Regions from separate parts of the Homo sapiens genome. Here region 2 is linked to region 1. The links come from fine-mapping of genetic effects on gene expression. Tissue or cell type: whole blood. Region 1 holds a variant in brackets; the other region holds the start of a gene. All regions are shown on one strand. Distances are between the middles of the regions.

The links. PIP is the estimated chance that this variant, and not a neighbour inherited with it, causes the effect.
Region 2: it holds the start of CAMKK2, and the variant in region 1 is fine-mapped to the expression of CAMKK2 in whole blood (TOPMed, PIP above 0.99).

What each region holds. Positions count from the first base shown.
Region 1 is chr12:121,270,680-121,278,939 of GRCh38, forward strand. CAMKK2 (calcium/calmodulin dependent protein kinase kinase 2) reads right to left here. Exons shown (of 17, transcript NM_001270485.2): 2 at 3,377-3,906; 3 at 219-266. The coding sequence starts at 3,847. Among named protein-coding and RNA genes, the nearest start is that of CAMKK2, 22 kb to the right of the region's middle. The variant C/T (reference allele first, on the strand shown) is at 3,819.
Region 2 is chr12:121,293,282-121,301,281 of GRCh38, forward strand. CAMKK2 (calcium/calmodulin dependent protein kinase kinase 2) reads right to left here and starts at 3,428. Exons shown (of 17, transcript NM_001270485.2): 1 at 3,357-3,428. RefSeq lists a silencer at 2,964-4,113.

The DNA of each region.
Region 1 (8,260 bases):
CGTTGGAAGCTTTCTGAGCTTCTGCAGAAACATATTTAATTTTAAGATACAAGAAAACAAAACTAAACCAAAAACCTAGATCATTAATGACAAAACCCTCTCCACCAACCTCGCCTTCAAAGACTCCTCTCCTGCTCCCAGCTTTACCCCGTTCCCTCCACAGTATCTGAACGCCCCTGGTGAATGCAGAAAGCCAGCCTAGCCCCAGGGATATTTACCTTTCCAATTTCATCCTTCAGGGTATACTGATTCAGCTGCACACAGTCCTAGAGAGTAAGGAGAGACACGTGCAAAATGAATTTTAAGTTTGCAACTAGAGGCCAGGCACGGTGGCTCACACCTACAAGCCCTTCAGGAGACCAAGGTGGGAGGATCACTTGAGTTCAGGAGTTCCAGACCAGCCTGGCCAACATGGTGAAATCCCATCTCTATTAATAATATAAAAATTAGCCAGGCGTGGTGGTGGGCACCTGTAATCCCAGCTACTCAGGAGGCTGAGGCACGAGAATCGCGTGAGCCCAGGAGGTGGAGGTTGCTTGAGCGGAGATTGCACCATTGCACTCCAGCCTGGGCAAAAGAGTAAAACTGTGTCTCAAAAAAAAAAAAAAAAAAGTTTGCAACTAGATACATTTCTCCAAATTAAACACATACAGGTAACCAGAACCCAAATCAAGAAAGAGAACATCCCCAGCTCCCAGAAGCCACTCGCACCTCTGCCCTCCCCCAGGTGGCCACTCTCTTGACTTCTAACAACGCTGATTTTGCTTGTTGTACTTTGTCAAAATGTAACCACACACTGTGGACTCTTGTAAAACCCATTTTTTAAAGAAGGTTGTTCCTACTTTTAAAAAGTAAATTTTAAATCAAACAAGTAATCCTTGGCTACATTGTCCTGTAAAAACATAAAGTGATACAAGAAAAGCAAGTCTGTGCAACCTTGGGGTAGACAAGGGTTTCTTAGATAATACAAAAAAGGTACAGACAAAAGAAACAAATGATAAATTGGACTTCACCAAAATTAAAACTTTGGCTTTTTTTTCTTTTTGAGATGGAGTTTTGCTCTTGTTGCCCAGGCTGGAGTGCAATGGCACAATCTCAGCTCACCGCAACCTCCGCCTCCCAGATTCAAGCAATTCTCCTGCCTCAGCCTCCCAAGTAGCTGGGATTACAGGCACCCACCACCACGCCCAGCTAAATTCTTTGTATTTTTAGTAGAGATGGGGTTTCTCCATGTTGGCCAGGCTGGTCTCTAACTCCTGACCTCAGGTTATCCTCCCGCCTTGGCCTCCCAAAATGCTGGGATTACAGGCGTGAGCTACTGGGCCTAGCCTATTTTGTTTTTTGTAGAGATGGGTCTTCCTATGTTGCCCAGGCTGGTCTCAAACTCCTGGTCTTAAGTGATCCTCCCGCCTCAGTCTCCCAAGTAGCTGGGATTACAGGCATAAGCCATTGTACCAGGCCTTGACAGTTTCTTAACAAACATCTACCGTACCACAGGCCACTCTACCCAATAGAAGTGAAAATGTGTTTACAAAGACTTGCATATAAATATTAATAACAGCTTTAGTTGTAATAATAAAAAATTGGAAGCAATCCAAATGTCCTTCAACAGGTAAATGAATAAACAAACTGTGGTACGTCCATACAATTGAAATTATTCAGCAATAAAAAGGAACTACAGATATACGCCACAACATGGATAAATCTCAAAATCATGATGCTGTGAAAGAAGCTAAGCTAAAAAGGAGCCATTGCTCATAGGTCCTAGCTCTGTTTTTGGCTCATGCTGTGAATTCTCCCTCCTCTCAACTCTCCAGGGCCCAATTTTCATCTCCAATTATGAAAGTTTTTCCTGGCCTTCAAAATGTAGTCCCTATAGCCCCTTCAAAATCAGCCCCTTTGGCAGTGCACAGTGGCTCATGCCTGTAATCCCAGCACTTTGGGAGGCTGAGGCAGGTGGATCACCTGAGGTCAGGAGTTCGAGACCAGCCTGGCCAACATGGCATTACCCCATCTCTACTTAAAAAAAAAAAAAAAAAAAAAAATTAACTGGGCATGGTGGTGCACACCTGTAGTCCCAGCTACTCATGAGCTGAGGGAGGAGAATAGCTTGAACCTGGGAGGTGGAGGTTGCAGTGAGCCAAAATCACGCAACTGCACTCCAGCCTGGGCAACACAGCAACCCTCTGTCTCAACAACAACAACAAAAAAAAGCCCCTTTAGAAAGGCATCCTGATGTTGGGTCTTCTTCCAATTAAATTCATTCGTTCCTTCAACAAATATTTTTGCGCTCCTACTATGCACCAGGTACTGTGCTAGGCTCTGGGGATGGGATAGGGTGTGGAGGTGGATGAAATGATCCTATGGAGCTTACGTTCTGGCTGGGTGGAGACAGGCAATAAACAACTAAACCAACGCACAGATAATCAGATGCTGATTAACGTTATGAAGGAAAGCAAATAGGGCCATGGGGCAGAGAGAGGCTGGAGGGTGCTTTAGGGATGGTGGCCCGGGAAGCCTTTTGGAGGAGGTGATACTGGAGTTGAGACTTGGACATTATCGGAATAGGCCTTACAAAGTTGGCATGGGGTGGTGGGGGAGGTGGTTCCAAGCAGAAGGAACAGCGAGAGTACAGACCCAAGGCAAGAGCTTGGATTCCGAGGAATGTGAAGGCAGGAACAGAGGGAGCTTAGGGAGCTGGCAGCAGAATGGCAGGAGGGATGGGAAAGGGTCAGACCACACAGGGCCCTGTGAACCCTGGTGAGGATCTGAGTTCTCTGTATCCCCGCAGGGTTTACGGTAAGGGTCCTGTGAGAAATGCACAGCAAGTGCTGAACCCAGTGCCTGGTGCCAACACACGCTCGGCCAGGCGGGTCGTCGCCAGGCTCTCAGTGACCCGCCTCATTCCATCACACCTTCGCCCACACCTCAGTCTCTTTGCTGGAGGCTCCCTCCGGCCCTGCAACTGCTCTGTCCACACCCACAGGGGGTCACACACACCTGCCCCAGCAGCCCTCACCCATGAGTATAAATACCCCAGCTCCCTTGCCCCTGGTGGGATGACTGAGGCTGCTGCTCTGTGCTGTTCCCCAGGGTCCCACGGAAGGAAAAAGCCCCAGCGGCCCACACTCCACACTGGTAATCGGCTCCATGACCCACCCTTTGCTGACTGCCTTCCCTTCCCCATGCTGATTCACGACCCCCCTAGGGCCCCTTTTTGGCCCCAGCCGCCCCCAAGGTTCCCTGGAGTCAACTCCTAGGTCAACCGTGGCACTCAGATCCTTCTGGGGGAGCCCAACCTTCCACAGAGGCCCTGCTGGGGGCAGGGAAGGGCACCAGGGACCCCTAGGACCTGGCTCACCACCGGCTCACGCACCTGCATACCCGTGATGGAGACGTGGTGAGACTCCACTGTCGGCCGCCGGGGCAGCCGAGGCGAGGACTGCGGGGAGCTGACGGGTGAGTAGGGCAGGGACGGGCAGATGCAGCGTCCGTTCATGTCCAGGCTGCCACCGGCTGCCAGCCCACCCTGGGACCGCTCTTGCAGAGACAGCTTGCGACCGGAGAGGTGGGGCCGGGCCTGGGACCCGGAGGTGTCAAGGGGGACCTCTTGGCCATCGGCCTCCAGGGGCCGGTCCCGCGCCAAGCCGAGGTCCACAGCACAGCCCGGCTCACACTCGGTGACCACAATGAAGGACTCCATGCCCAGGTGGATGCTCAAGGATGAGAGGCCCCGCAGGGCCTCACAGGGCTTCTGGCTTTCGCTGCTGCTGCTGCCCCTGCCCCCCAGCTCATCCTGGGGGGCGGCCCGGTTGCTG[C/T]TGGGCTGGCTAGAGACACATGATGACATGGTGCATGCGCCAGCTTCATCCAGCACACTGGGGCACTCCCATCCGGCAGCGGAGCCACCTGCAGAAAGAGAAAGGGTCAGCTGGCCCAGCTCCTACGGGCAGGGACAGGAAAGGATCCCCTCTCCTCCTGGCCCAGGCTGCTGTCTAATTCCTGCCTCCAGTTGACATCCTAAAAAAATCTTGCAAAACATGGTGTGATCTGATCTCTGAGTCTATACAGAAAAGCAGAGTCTGCATCTTCTTATATTTTTTCTTTTATTATTTTTTCTTTTTTTTTCTTTTTTTTTTTTTTGAGACAAGGTCTCTCCCTCTCTCTGTTGCCCAGGCTGGAGTACAGTGGTGCGATCATAGCTCACTGTACCCTTGAACTCCTAGGCTCAAGTGATCCTCCCATCTCAGCCTCCCAAGTAGCTGGAACCACTTCTCACATACCATGACAATAATTCCTAACTCAATTCCTATAGGAACAAGTATAAGAAAACCCCCAAATAGAGCACACATATCCCCTACAGAATTGACAGCTGCTTCCAGCTCAAGCCAATTGTTGCTCGGCAGGAATCTGGGCCTACTATTGCTGGTCTTCCCTTTGTTTTTCCCAAGAGAAGCCCTAAGGAGGTTAATAAGTTTGCCTGACTTTTTATTTTTAAATGCTGGGCATTAACAATGCAGGTCAGGGCTGGACACGGTGGCTCACACCTGTAATCCTAGCATTTTGGGAGGCCAAGGCAGGCAGATTACTTGAAGCCAGGAATTCCAGATCAGCCTGGCCAACATGGTGAAACCTCATCTCTACTAAAAATACAAAAATTAGCCGGGCATGGTGGCGTGTGCCTGTAATCCCAGCTACTCAGGAGGCTGAGGCAGGAGAATCGCTGGAATCCAGGAGGCGGAGGTTGCAGTGAGCCGAGATCATGCCACTGCACTCCAGCCTCAGCAACTCAGCAATAGACCAAGACTGTCTCAAAAAAAAAAAAAAAAAAAAGGTCGGGGGGAATCAAGTATATGCCACAATATGGATGAACCTCTAAAATATTATGCTAACTGAAGGAAGCCAGTCACAAAAGGTCACATATATATGATTCTATTTATATGAAATTTTTAAAATATGCAACTCCACAGAGACAGAAAGTAGACTAATGGTTGCCTAGGACTATGGGGGTGGTGACATTAGTGGGTGTGGGGAATGGCTGCTTAATGGGCACAGGTTTTCCTTTTGGGGTGATCAAAACGTTTTGAAACTAGATAGAGGTAATGGTTGCACAGCATTGTGAACGTACTAAATGCCACTGAACTATACACTTCAAAATGGCCAACTTATGTTACATGAACTTATATCTCAATTTTTTAAAAAAGGCCAGGCACGGCAGCTCACGCCTGTAATCTCAGCACTTTGGGAGGACAGGGCGGGTGGATCATGAGGTCAGGAGTTCAAGGCCAGCCTGACCAACATGGTGAAACCCCATCTCTACTAAAAATACAAAAATTAGCCAAGTGTGGTGATGTACACCTGTAGTCCCAGCTACTCAGGAGGCTGAGGCAGGAGAATCACTTGAACCCGGGAGGCGGAGGTTGCAATGAGCCGAGATCACGCCACTGCACTTCAGCCTGGATGACAGAGTGAGACTCCATCTCAAAAAAAAAAAAAAAGAGAGAGAAGTCGGACACAGTGGTTCATACCTGTAATCCTCCCAGCACTTTGGGAGGCCAAGGCAGGTGGATCACCTGAGGTCAGGAGTTCAAGACCAGCCTGGCCAACCTGGTGAAACCCCATCTCTACTAAAAATACAAAAATTACCTGGGCATGGTGGTGGGCACCTGTAATCCCAGCTACTCGGGAGGCTGAGGCAGGAGAATCACTTGAATCCGGGAGGTGAAGGTTGCAATGACTGAGCCGAGATCGCACCACTGCACTGCAGCCTGGGTGACTGAACAAGACTCATCTCAAAAAATAAAAATAAAAAAGATTAACACATCCCCTTAGGCTGTCAATTCTTACCGTCTCTGGGACAGAACATTAACCTTTGCTTAACGTGTTTGACAAATTCTGCTGGACAAATGTCACAGGTACCACTGGAATTCAGGGAGTACATTTGTGGACAGACACCTGTGGATGATGGCCACTCCATGCTAATCACCCACATCACAAAGGGTCTCTCTGGACCATCCTGGCCAACATGGTGAAACCCCGTCTCTACTAAAAATACAACAATAAGCCAGGTGTAGTGGCTCATGCCTATAATCCTAGCTACTGGAGAGGCTGAGGCAGGAGAATTGCTTGAACCTGGGAGGCGGAGGTTGCAGTGAGCTGAGGTTGCACCACTGCACACCAGCCTGCCAACAGAGGGAGACTCCATCTCAAAAAAAAAGGGCGGGGTGGGGGGGGGGTCTCTCTAGATGTCCCAGGAAAACAGTGAGGGCTCAGCAGAGATTTTATGAATGAATAAAATGGTATCTCCGATGACATTGGGAGGTAGTGGGGTAAAAGAGAGGAAGGTACAGACAGCGGAAAGCCAGAGCTCCCTGGAGGATCTGGCTGAGAGGCAGAAAATGGCCCTCAGCGCTCTCGGAACGGTCCTTCCAGAAGAACTGATGAAATAGCTACTACGCCAGGCACGTGGCAGGGAAAGCCCAACAGGAAAGGCAAAAGGGAAAACCCAACGCCCCAGCCCTGACACGGGCCTGACTCATGCACACAGAGTGTGTGGTAAGAGAACGCCAAAGAGTCCAATCATGCGGCAAGATGTTCAACCTCACAGTAAGAGAACTGCAAATTCAAACTACAATCAGGCAGCCTGGTGGCTCCCCAAAAAGTTAAACGTAGAGTTGCCATATAACCAGCAATTCCTCTCCTAGGTATAGACCCAAAAGAATTGAAGGTAGGGATTCAAACGGATACTTGTACACTAATGTTCATAGCAACATCATTCACAATAGCCAAAAGGTATAACCAAGTGTCCATCAACAGACGAATGAATAAACAAAATGTGGCAGAGCCATACAACAGAATACTATACAGCCACAAAAAAGAAGGAAACTCTGACTCACACTACAACACAGACGAACCGTGAAGACATACGCTAAGTGAAGCAAGCCAGATACTAAAGGACAAGTGTTGTAAGATTTCAGTTACATGAAGTATCTAGAATAGTCAAATTCAGGCCAGATGCAGTGGTTCGCACCTGTAATCCCAACACCTTGGGAGGCCAAGGCAGGCAGATCACTTGAGGTTAGGAGTTCCAGATAAGCCCGGCCAATATGGTGAAACCCCATCTCTACTAAAAATACAAAAATTAGCCAGGCGTGGTGTTGGGCACCTGTCATCCCAGCTACTCAGGAGGCTGAAGCAGGAGAATCACTTGAACCCGGGAGGCACAGGTTGCAGTGAGGCGAGATTGCGCCACTGCACTCCAGCCTGGGTAACAGAGCAAGACTCCATCTAAAATAAATAAATAAATAAAAAGTGTTTTAAAGGAAAGAAAATACCTGTAACCATGATCGGAGTTATGATGATAAGGCCTAGGATGCTACGGGATCAGACGGGGCAGGAGGTCAGGAGAGGGGAGCAGTTGGTCTTATCTCCTATTTCTCTGTCCCCCATTCCCCCTTACTGTATCTCAGAAAGAAATCATCAACTCTGTCCCTGTCTCAGTTTCCCCATCAATGAGAGAATACAACTCAAGTTTGATATTTCTCTATGGCCCTAGCTGCTGCTACTTTACTTCTCCTTCTCATGGTCCTTATGTCCCAGAAGAGGAAACTCAAGATACCCTGAAGTTCAACAGCTTAAGGTCATTGACATCCTGTAAAGTTGGTGCCCATCTGATAGTCATAGGATTAGATGAACCAAGCACTCAGAATCATGCCCTGCAAGTGGTTAAGTACTCAAAAACTATTACTTCAACAAACACCTGTTGGATGCTATGGTTTGACTCTGTGTCCTCTCCCAAATCTCACCTTGAATTGTACTCCCATAATTCCCGTGTGTTGTGGGAGGGACCCAGTGGGAGATAATTGAATCACGGGGGCGGGTTCCCCCATACTGTTCTCATGGTGGTAAGCCTCACGAGATCTGATGGTTTTATCAGGGGGTTCCGCTTTTGCATCTTCCTCATTCTCGCTGCCTGCTGCCGTCCATGTAAGACCGGACTTGCTCCTCCTTGACTTCCGCCATGATTATGGGGCTTCCCCAGCCAAGTGGAACTATAAGTCCAGTTAAACCTTTCTGTTGTAAATTGCCCAGTCTCGGGTATGTCTTTATCAGCAGCGTGAAAACGGACTAATACAGATGCCCATGGCCTGCTCTGGTAGGTAGCCTATGCTCTGGAATGTTCCCACGAGGACCAATGTCCAAGCGAGCTGGCCTGCTCTTAAGTGTGTCCCTCAGCCCTGGCTGTGTGGCCTGCGTCCCCCAG
Region 2 (8,000 bases), 22 kb after region 1:
AAAAGAAAAGAAACAAAGCAAAGCAATAAGCAATATAAGACCCTCTGATTTAAAGGAAAATCTGAAATAGCATTTGCCCCAAATCCCCAGGATCAGGAAATGAAATGTTTCCCATAACCACCAGAAGAAAGTATGCTGGGGCGGGAAGAAGATCACAGGTGACCCTGAGCAAATTACTCAGCCTCTCTGAGCCCTTCATATAAAGAGGCTTCCATAAAATGAGTTGATAGAATAATGGTGATTCTGTGGCCCATGTTAAAATTTGAGCCAAAATGCCTTGAAAACAGGCTTGGCCTGCCCCACTTGGCCTGGTCCTCTCCCCTGAGAGTGGTGTCTGGCCACTCATCTTCCATCTAGGATGAGGTTCTCAAAGAGGAAACCCCCGGCTACTGCACAAAGTTCCCTGCTAGGTCACCCCACCCTATCCCCTTCCCCTCCTACTCCCATCCCATCTCCCATTTCTGGCCCATCCTTCAAGGCTCTGCACAAATGACACCTCCTTCAGGGAGCCTCCCAGATTCACACCAGTCTGAGGAGATTTCTCCAGAACCCTCAGTGCCCTGTGCTCCTTCGATCACAACAGCACTCATTCCTTGTGGTGTTTCTCAACAGTGGCACTGCTGGCATTTGGGGGAGGGTGATTTTTTTTTGTTTTTTGTTTGTTTTTTGAGAGGAAGTCTCCTTCTTGTGCCCCACGCTGGAGTGCAATGGCACGATCTCAGCACACTGCAACCTCCGCCTTCCAGGTTCAAGTGATTCTCCTGCCTCAGCCTCCCAAGTAGCTGGGATTACAGGTGTGTGCCACCACGCCCAGCTAATTTTTGTATTTTTAGTAGAGATGGGGTTTCACCATGTTGGCCAGGCTGGTCTCGAACTCCTGACCTCAGGTGATCCTCCTGCCTCGGCCTCCCAAAGTGCTGGGATTACAAGCGTGAGCCACCACGCCCAGCCAGGGGAGGGTGATTCTTTATGTCGTGGCCCTGGCCTGCCTACAGGACACTTTAGTAGGCATCCCTGACTCCCGCCCACTAAAAGCCAGGAGTGCTTAGCATCATTTTGACAACCAAAAGTCGCCCCCACACTTTCCCAAATCCCTGCCAGGAGGGTGGGACCACCCCCGGATGAGAACTAGTGCATTGTTATTAGTGACTATATTTAGCTACCAGCCCACTAGCCATATCTAAGGATGGGCAGTACTACAGACCCTGCATAGAGCTGCATCGGCAAACACTGATGTAGTGAATAAACAAAACAAAACAAACTCCTGGGCTCCTCAAGAAGCTCAGGGCAGCCTTGCCAGGGTCTCTGCTCTTGAACAGGTGCACAAAGGTTCTAAGGCCTGACATGCCTGCACTGGCTGTGTGACCCTGAGCAAGTTACTTAACTTCTCTGAGCCCTTCTATAAAATGGGGCTAAATCCTAGCAACACTGCAGGATTTCTGTAAACCTCAGTCTCCTAATCTCTACTATGGGGTTAAAATTCCCTACGTTGTAGGATTTGGTAGGCATTAAATGAGATAATGCATGTAACACATAGCACAGAATCTGGCAGGCAGCAAGAACTCAATAGATGTTAGTTTTTAATACTGTTATTATTATTATTGTCCAGGGCCAGGTGGCAGCTCATGCCTGTAATCCTAGCACTTGGGAGACTGACGTAGGCGGATCACTTGAGGTAAGGAGTTCAAGACCAGCCTGACCAACATGGTGAAACCCCTTCTCTACTAAAAATACAGAAATTAGCCAGGCATGGTGGTGGGCGCCTGTAATCCCAGCTACTGGAGAGGCTGAGGCATGAGAATCGCTTGAACCCGGGAGGCGGAGGTTGCAGTGAGCCAAGATTGTGCCACTGCACTCCACCCTGGGCAACAGAGACTCCGTCTCAAAATAAATAAATAAGTATTCTTATTATTATCCAAGTTAGGGGCTCATCAAATGATGGCTATTACTCTTCATTACAAAAATATGTTTTGCGTCCTCATCACCAATGCCTGCTTCCTCCATAGGAAGGGTGTGTGTCACCAATGCCTGCTTCCTCCATAGGAAGGGTGTATGAGCAGCAGTCTGGAAGGGGTATGTGGGGCTTGCCCTAAAGCTGCATTTGCATGGCATGCACACTATTTATTCTGAAACTGCATGTTTTTGTGGGGTGATTAGGGAAGAGGGTGGCTAACTCCCCCAAAGCCCTCCCCTTGTTGCAGCCCCCGCCTCCTCCAAGGAACAAAGGAGCTTATGGGGACATAAAGCCATCCTCTTCTCTCTCCTCTGGGGGCAGAGCTAGGGGAGGGGGAGTGGTAAATGGCAGCACAGCTCTAGGGCACCTGAAGTTTCTATCCCCTGCGTGGAGACTCCAAACACCAGGCTGGGGAAGGTAAAAGTAGCCTGTAGGGAGATGGACGCTGCAGGTCCCATCCGGAGGCCAGGTATCCCTCTCTTGCTGATAGCACTGAGACGCCCTCCCCAAAGCTCAGCCTTCTCGGGGAGATCGGAGGGGCTGAGCTGCATCCTGTCCAGCACTAAGTGAGAGTGGCCAGGAGGGCAGGCTGGCAGAGCTGTGAAAGCACCCACTTCCCCAGCTAGGCAGTGCAGGGGCTGGGGGAAAGCCAGGAAAAGCTCAAGGCTGGGTCGGGTGGCACCCCAGGCACAGAGCCCCAATGCTGAGAGGGGCTGGGTCCAGTGTCCCTGAGAGTCAGGCGGACGCCTCTCCGCATTCACAGCATACTGCAACCCCGAGGTGAATTTAGGTCAGAAGGACCAAGCCTGTGAGGCTCCGGCTGAGAGAAGAGGTGCGGTGGGGGTGGTCAAAGGGCAGACCGAAGACAGCCAAAGGTCCCCTAGGTCCCCACAACTGCTGGCCTAGGGTCCTGCCACCTGGTGTCCAAGCCACCAGGGCCTGGGTTTGCCCCGAGACAGGCAGGCTGCGGGGTGGGGGTGCTCCAAGTCCGCTGGTCCTCTCTTCCCCGGAACGCTCCAGATTTCCCCACCTGTCAAACGCGAGGGGCTGGGCCTAGGCCGCCTCCACGAACCCTGACGGACCCGGCCCCCGGTGACCCCGGTTCCAAACTCCAGGACCGCCCCTGCCACCCGGACAGGGCGCGGCCCAGCCGAGGAGGCCATCCCGAGGCCCAGGGCGCCCAGAGGACGCGGGGGAAGGGCTGTCGGGGACCGTGTCCCTCCACGTGGCGGGGCGTGGGGAGGCGCACGTGGGGTCCCTCCGTGTTGGGAGCCCCAGGCCAGCCTCCGGGCTTTGTGTGCCATGCCGGCGGCGGTCCCCCGCCTCGAGAGGGAAACGGAGCGGGCGCCCGGGGCCGCGGCGGCTGCGTCCCTTGCCCCGGGCCCGGCTACCGCCAGCTCACCTGGGCTCCGCGCCGCCGCCGCCTCCCGCGCTCTGCGCCCCCAGCTCGGCTCGGCTCGGCTCAGCTTGCTCTGCGCGGCCGCGCGCTCCTCTCCTCCGCCCGGGCGGCGGGCGCGCGGGGGGCGGGGGCGGGAGGAGCCGCCCGGCTCGGCTTGGGCGCGTCGCCGCCCCGGGCAGCGCGGGGATTGGCCACGGCGGCGGGAAACCCGAAAGCGGAACCGCCCGCGCCCGCCGCGCACCGCCCCCTGCGCGCCCCCGCCGGCTCGGCCCTGCGCCGGGGAGGGGTGGGGAGGCGGGAGCCTGCAAAGACGAAAGTAGCGAAGAGGCGAAGGGCAAGGAGCAGAAAGGGAGGAGGCGAAGAACGGGGGAAGAGAGGCCCGGCCGGGAGGATCGGAGGCGGCTGGGAGGAGAGCCTGGAGGGGCGCGGAGCGCAGGAGGTGGCGCCGCAACTTTGTACCCGCTCGCCCGCGGCGCGCACCTGCCCAGGTTCTTCCCGCGGCGCCCTCGGGCGGGCCGCGCCGGCAGCGCTTGCTTTGTTTAGCCAAATGCCGGGGCTGCAGGGCGCCTCCGGGCTGACCCTGGGAAAGTTCCCCCAAGCCGGCAAGAACACCCGGGGCCCCTCCTGTGGCGACCCGGCTGCTGCCCCTGCGCTAGGCGCCGGGCGGTGGATGCGGCCTGGACTTTGGGCCACCACCGACTCGGGGGAGCCCCCTTCCGCAGCTGCCTGCCGACTGACCACTTGCTCAGGGCCGGCCCTAAAGGCTGGGGGAAGGCGTTCCTCTCCCATCCCCAGCCCACCTGGATGCACCATTGAAGTTCATTCTGGCTTTTCCAGATGGCTACTTAGATGCTTTTTGTGAAATACAGCATATTCTTCCCATTCTCCCCTTTTTGGCACTTACTTTGCTGGAGCCTTAAGTGTGCGTTGGATCCCCCAGCTGGATAACAGCACTGTGCGGGGAAGAGGAGAAACGAAGACCTGGAGGGCTCCCTGAACCGTCCTACGGGGTCGAGCGACCCAGGGGATGTCTCACTGACCCTGCCAAACAGCCAAAAGGGAATCGAGTTGACAGGAGAGTCAACCTCCAAGTTAATAAAAGGTTCAAAGCCCTCTAGTTAACTGGGTGGATTTCCAGCCCGTTCCGATGTGCTTCTCTTGTATTTCTAGGCCGTAGGGACACTCACATGCAACGAGCCAATGAGAGCTCCACCCCGACTCCCTTTTTTTTTTTTTTTTTTTTCTTTTCTGAAACGGAGTCTCGCTCTGTCGCCCACGCTGGAGTGCAGTGACGCGATCTCGGATCACTGCAACCTCTGCCTCCCAGGTTCAAGCAGTTCTCTGCCTCAGTCTCCCGAGTAGCTGGGATTACAGGCGCCGGCCACCATACTTGGCTAATTTTTGTATTTTTCGTAGAGATGGGGTTTCACCATGTTGTCCAGGCTAATCTTGAATTCCTGACCTCGTGATCCACCCGCCTTGGCCTCCGAAAGTGCTGGGATTACAGGTGTGAGTCACCGCGCCCGGCCCACTCCCATTTTTTTTTCTTTGTTTTTTTTGTTTGTTTGTTTGTTTGTTTGTTTGTTTGTTTTGAGACAGGGTCTCTCTGTGTTGCCCAGGCTGGAGTGCAGTAGCACGATCACGGCTCGCTGCACCCTCGACCTCCCCAGGCTCAGGTGATCCTCCAGCCTCAGCCTCCTGAGTAGCTGGGACTACAGGCACACACCACCACACCTGGCTAATTTTTTCTATTTTTTGTAGAGACAGAGTTCTCCCTATGTTGCCCAGGCTGGTCTCAAACTCCTGGGCTCAAGTGATCCTCCTGCCTCTGCCTCCCAAAGTGCTGGGATTATAGGCATGAGCCAACATGCTCGGCCATCCACCTCTTCTGATGTTACTCAACGTGCATGCATTTGCTGGAAATGGCAAAAACCTGAGGCCGGGCATGGTGGCTCACGCCTATGATCCCAGCACTTTGGGAGGCCCGGGCGGAGAGATCACTTGAGGCCAGAAGTTCGAGACTAGCCTGGCCAGCATGGTGAAACCCCATCTCTATCAAAAATACAAAAATTAGCCCGGTGTGGTGGCGGTGCCCGTAATCCCAGCTACTCAGGAGGCTGAAGCACGAGAACCACTTGAACCGGGAGGCAGAGAGATCGCACCACTACCCTCCAGCCTGGACGACAGACCAAGACTGTTTCAAAAAAAAAAAAAAAAGTCTGGGCACAGTGGCTCACGCCTGTAATCCCAGCACTTTGGGAGGCCAAGGTGGGCAGATCACGAAGTCAGGAGTTCAAGTCCAGCCTGACCAGCATGGTGAAACCCCGTCTCTACTTAAAAAAAAAATGCAAAAATTAGCCAGGCATGGTGGCGCGCGCCTGTAATCCCAACTACTCAGGAGGCTGAGGCAGGAGAATCGCTTGAAACCCGGGAGGCAGAGGTTGCAGTGAGCCGAGATCATGCCACTGCACTCCAGCCTGGGTGACAGAGCAAGACTCCATCTCAAAAACAAAACAAAACAAAACAAAAACACAAAAAAAAAACCACCTGGGAACAACTTCCTATATGTTCATCAAAGGAATGGATAAATGAAACTCATTATAGTTGTTTGATGGAATACCATCTAATAGATAAAAGGGGTGCACTGGATCTGTACTGACATAAGGAAATCCCAAAAACATAATGTTGAGTAAAACAGCAAGTTGCAGAATACAACATGATGTACAATTTGTGTGTACCTTAAAATCCCATGCAGTAGATACTGTTCATGGACACATGCTTACATACAAGATTTTTAAAGTCAAAGAGAAGAATATACATTAAATTCATGACAGTGTGCCACAAAGAAGGAAAAAAGCACAGAACGGGACAGGGAGCATAAGGAATGTTGTAAAGTTTTATTCCTTTTAGTACTTATAAATGGCTGTGAGGCAAATGGCAAACTGTTAGCAATAGTCAATTCTGAATGGGGGATGCATAGTCCCGTATTTTTCTATATTCTCATATTTCCCCCCCCCCCCCCAAAAAAAATATGTATCAGGCCTGGTGGAGATTATCTGGGGCACTTTAAGGCAGGGTCAGCAAACTTTGTAAAGGGCCAGATAGTAAATATTTTAGGCTTTGCAAGCCATAGGCTCTGTAATGCAGCTACTCAACCCTGCCATCCTAGCAGCCACAGGAAATAGTAAATGAATGCATGCGGCAGTGTTCCAATAAAACTTTATTTACAGACACTGAAAACTGAATTTCATATGATTTTCATAAGTCACAAAATATTACTGTTTTGGTTTTTATTTAACCATTGAAAAATGTGAAAGGCCAGGTGTGGTGGCTTACACCTACACGCGTGATTACAATCTTAGCACTCTGGGAGGCCGAGGGGGCAGGATCACTTGAGCCTAGAAGTTTGAGACCAGCCTGGACAACATGGCAAGACCCATCTTGACAAAAAGAAAAAAGAAAAACGTAAAAACCATTCTTAGCAGGCCATAAAAAACAGGTGGCATGACAGATTTAGCTTATGGGCAATAAATAGTTTGGCAACCCTGCTTTACTAAGGTAACCAAAATAGATTTGGGTGTCCTTTCCTGTTACTGGATGTCTTTTCCTGGTACTTGTTAAACAATTCTGTATGTTTACATCATGTTACTAAATTGCCTGTGTTTTATTAGAACACTGTAGCTCACACAGGCAGAAACTTAGATATACACACAGCTGTGTAAACTTAAAAGCCAATTAAGTAAGAAAGGTTGGGAAGTGCCCCTACAAATCCAAACCCTAGCTCAAGAGTTGCTTTTCCTGATAGTTTCCTGAAATGCTGTGAGCCAGGCCCTCCCTGCCCGCTCCTCTCTCTGATGTCTTAAAGCAAGGACTGTACCATTTATTTGATGCTCAGCCACCTCCCTTCCTTCTTTATTCCTTCCTTTTTCACTCTGTGTTTTGACTTGCCAATAGACCTATATCTTCCTGGCATCTAGGCAGGTACCACATCTGAAACCTTTGTATACTCTCCGCATTGTGGGTGACAGCAATGACCCTGAAGTCAGATAGATTTTGTTCACATCCCAGTTTCACTAGTTACCAGCTCTGTGGCCTTGGGCAAATGACTTGATCTCTCCCAATTTGGTTTCGTCAGCTGTCAAATGGGGATAATAATAGTATCTAGCTCACAGGTTTCCCATGAGGTTTAAATCTAACGATGTATGTATGTAAAGATACTAGCTCTGTGCTTGGTACATAAGTCTTCAATGATGCTAACTAATTAAAATTAGCACAAAGCTAAAACCCCCATCAATATATGTGCTTTCCTTATTAAAGTTAATTAGAACAGGACAGAAACATCACAGTTGCAATTCTTTTTTTTTTTTTTTTTGAGACGGAGTTTTGCTCTTGCTGCCTGGTCTCACAGTTGCAATTCTTTTTTTTTTTTTTTTTTTGAGACGGAGGTTTGCTCTTGCTGCCTGGTCTCACAGTTGCAATTCCTTTTTTTTTTTTTTTTTGAGACGGAGTTTTGCTCTTGCTGCCTGGTCTCACAGTTGCAATTCTTTTTTTTTTTTTTTTTTTGAGACGGAGTTTTGCTCTTGCTGCCTGGTCTCACAGTTGCAATTCTTTTTTTTTTTTTTTGAGACGGAGTTTTGCTCTTGCTGC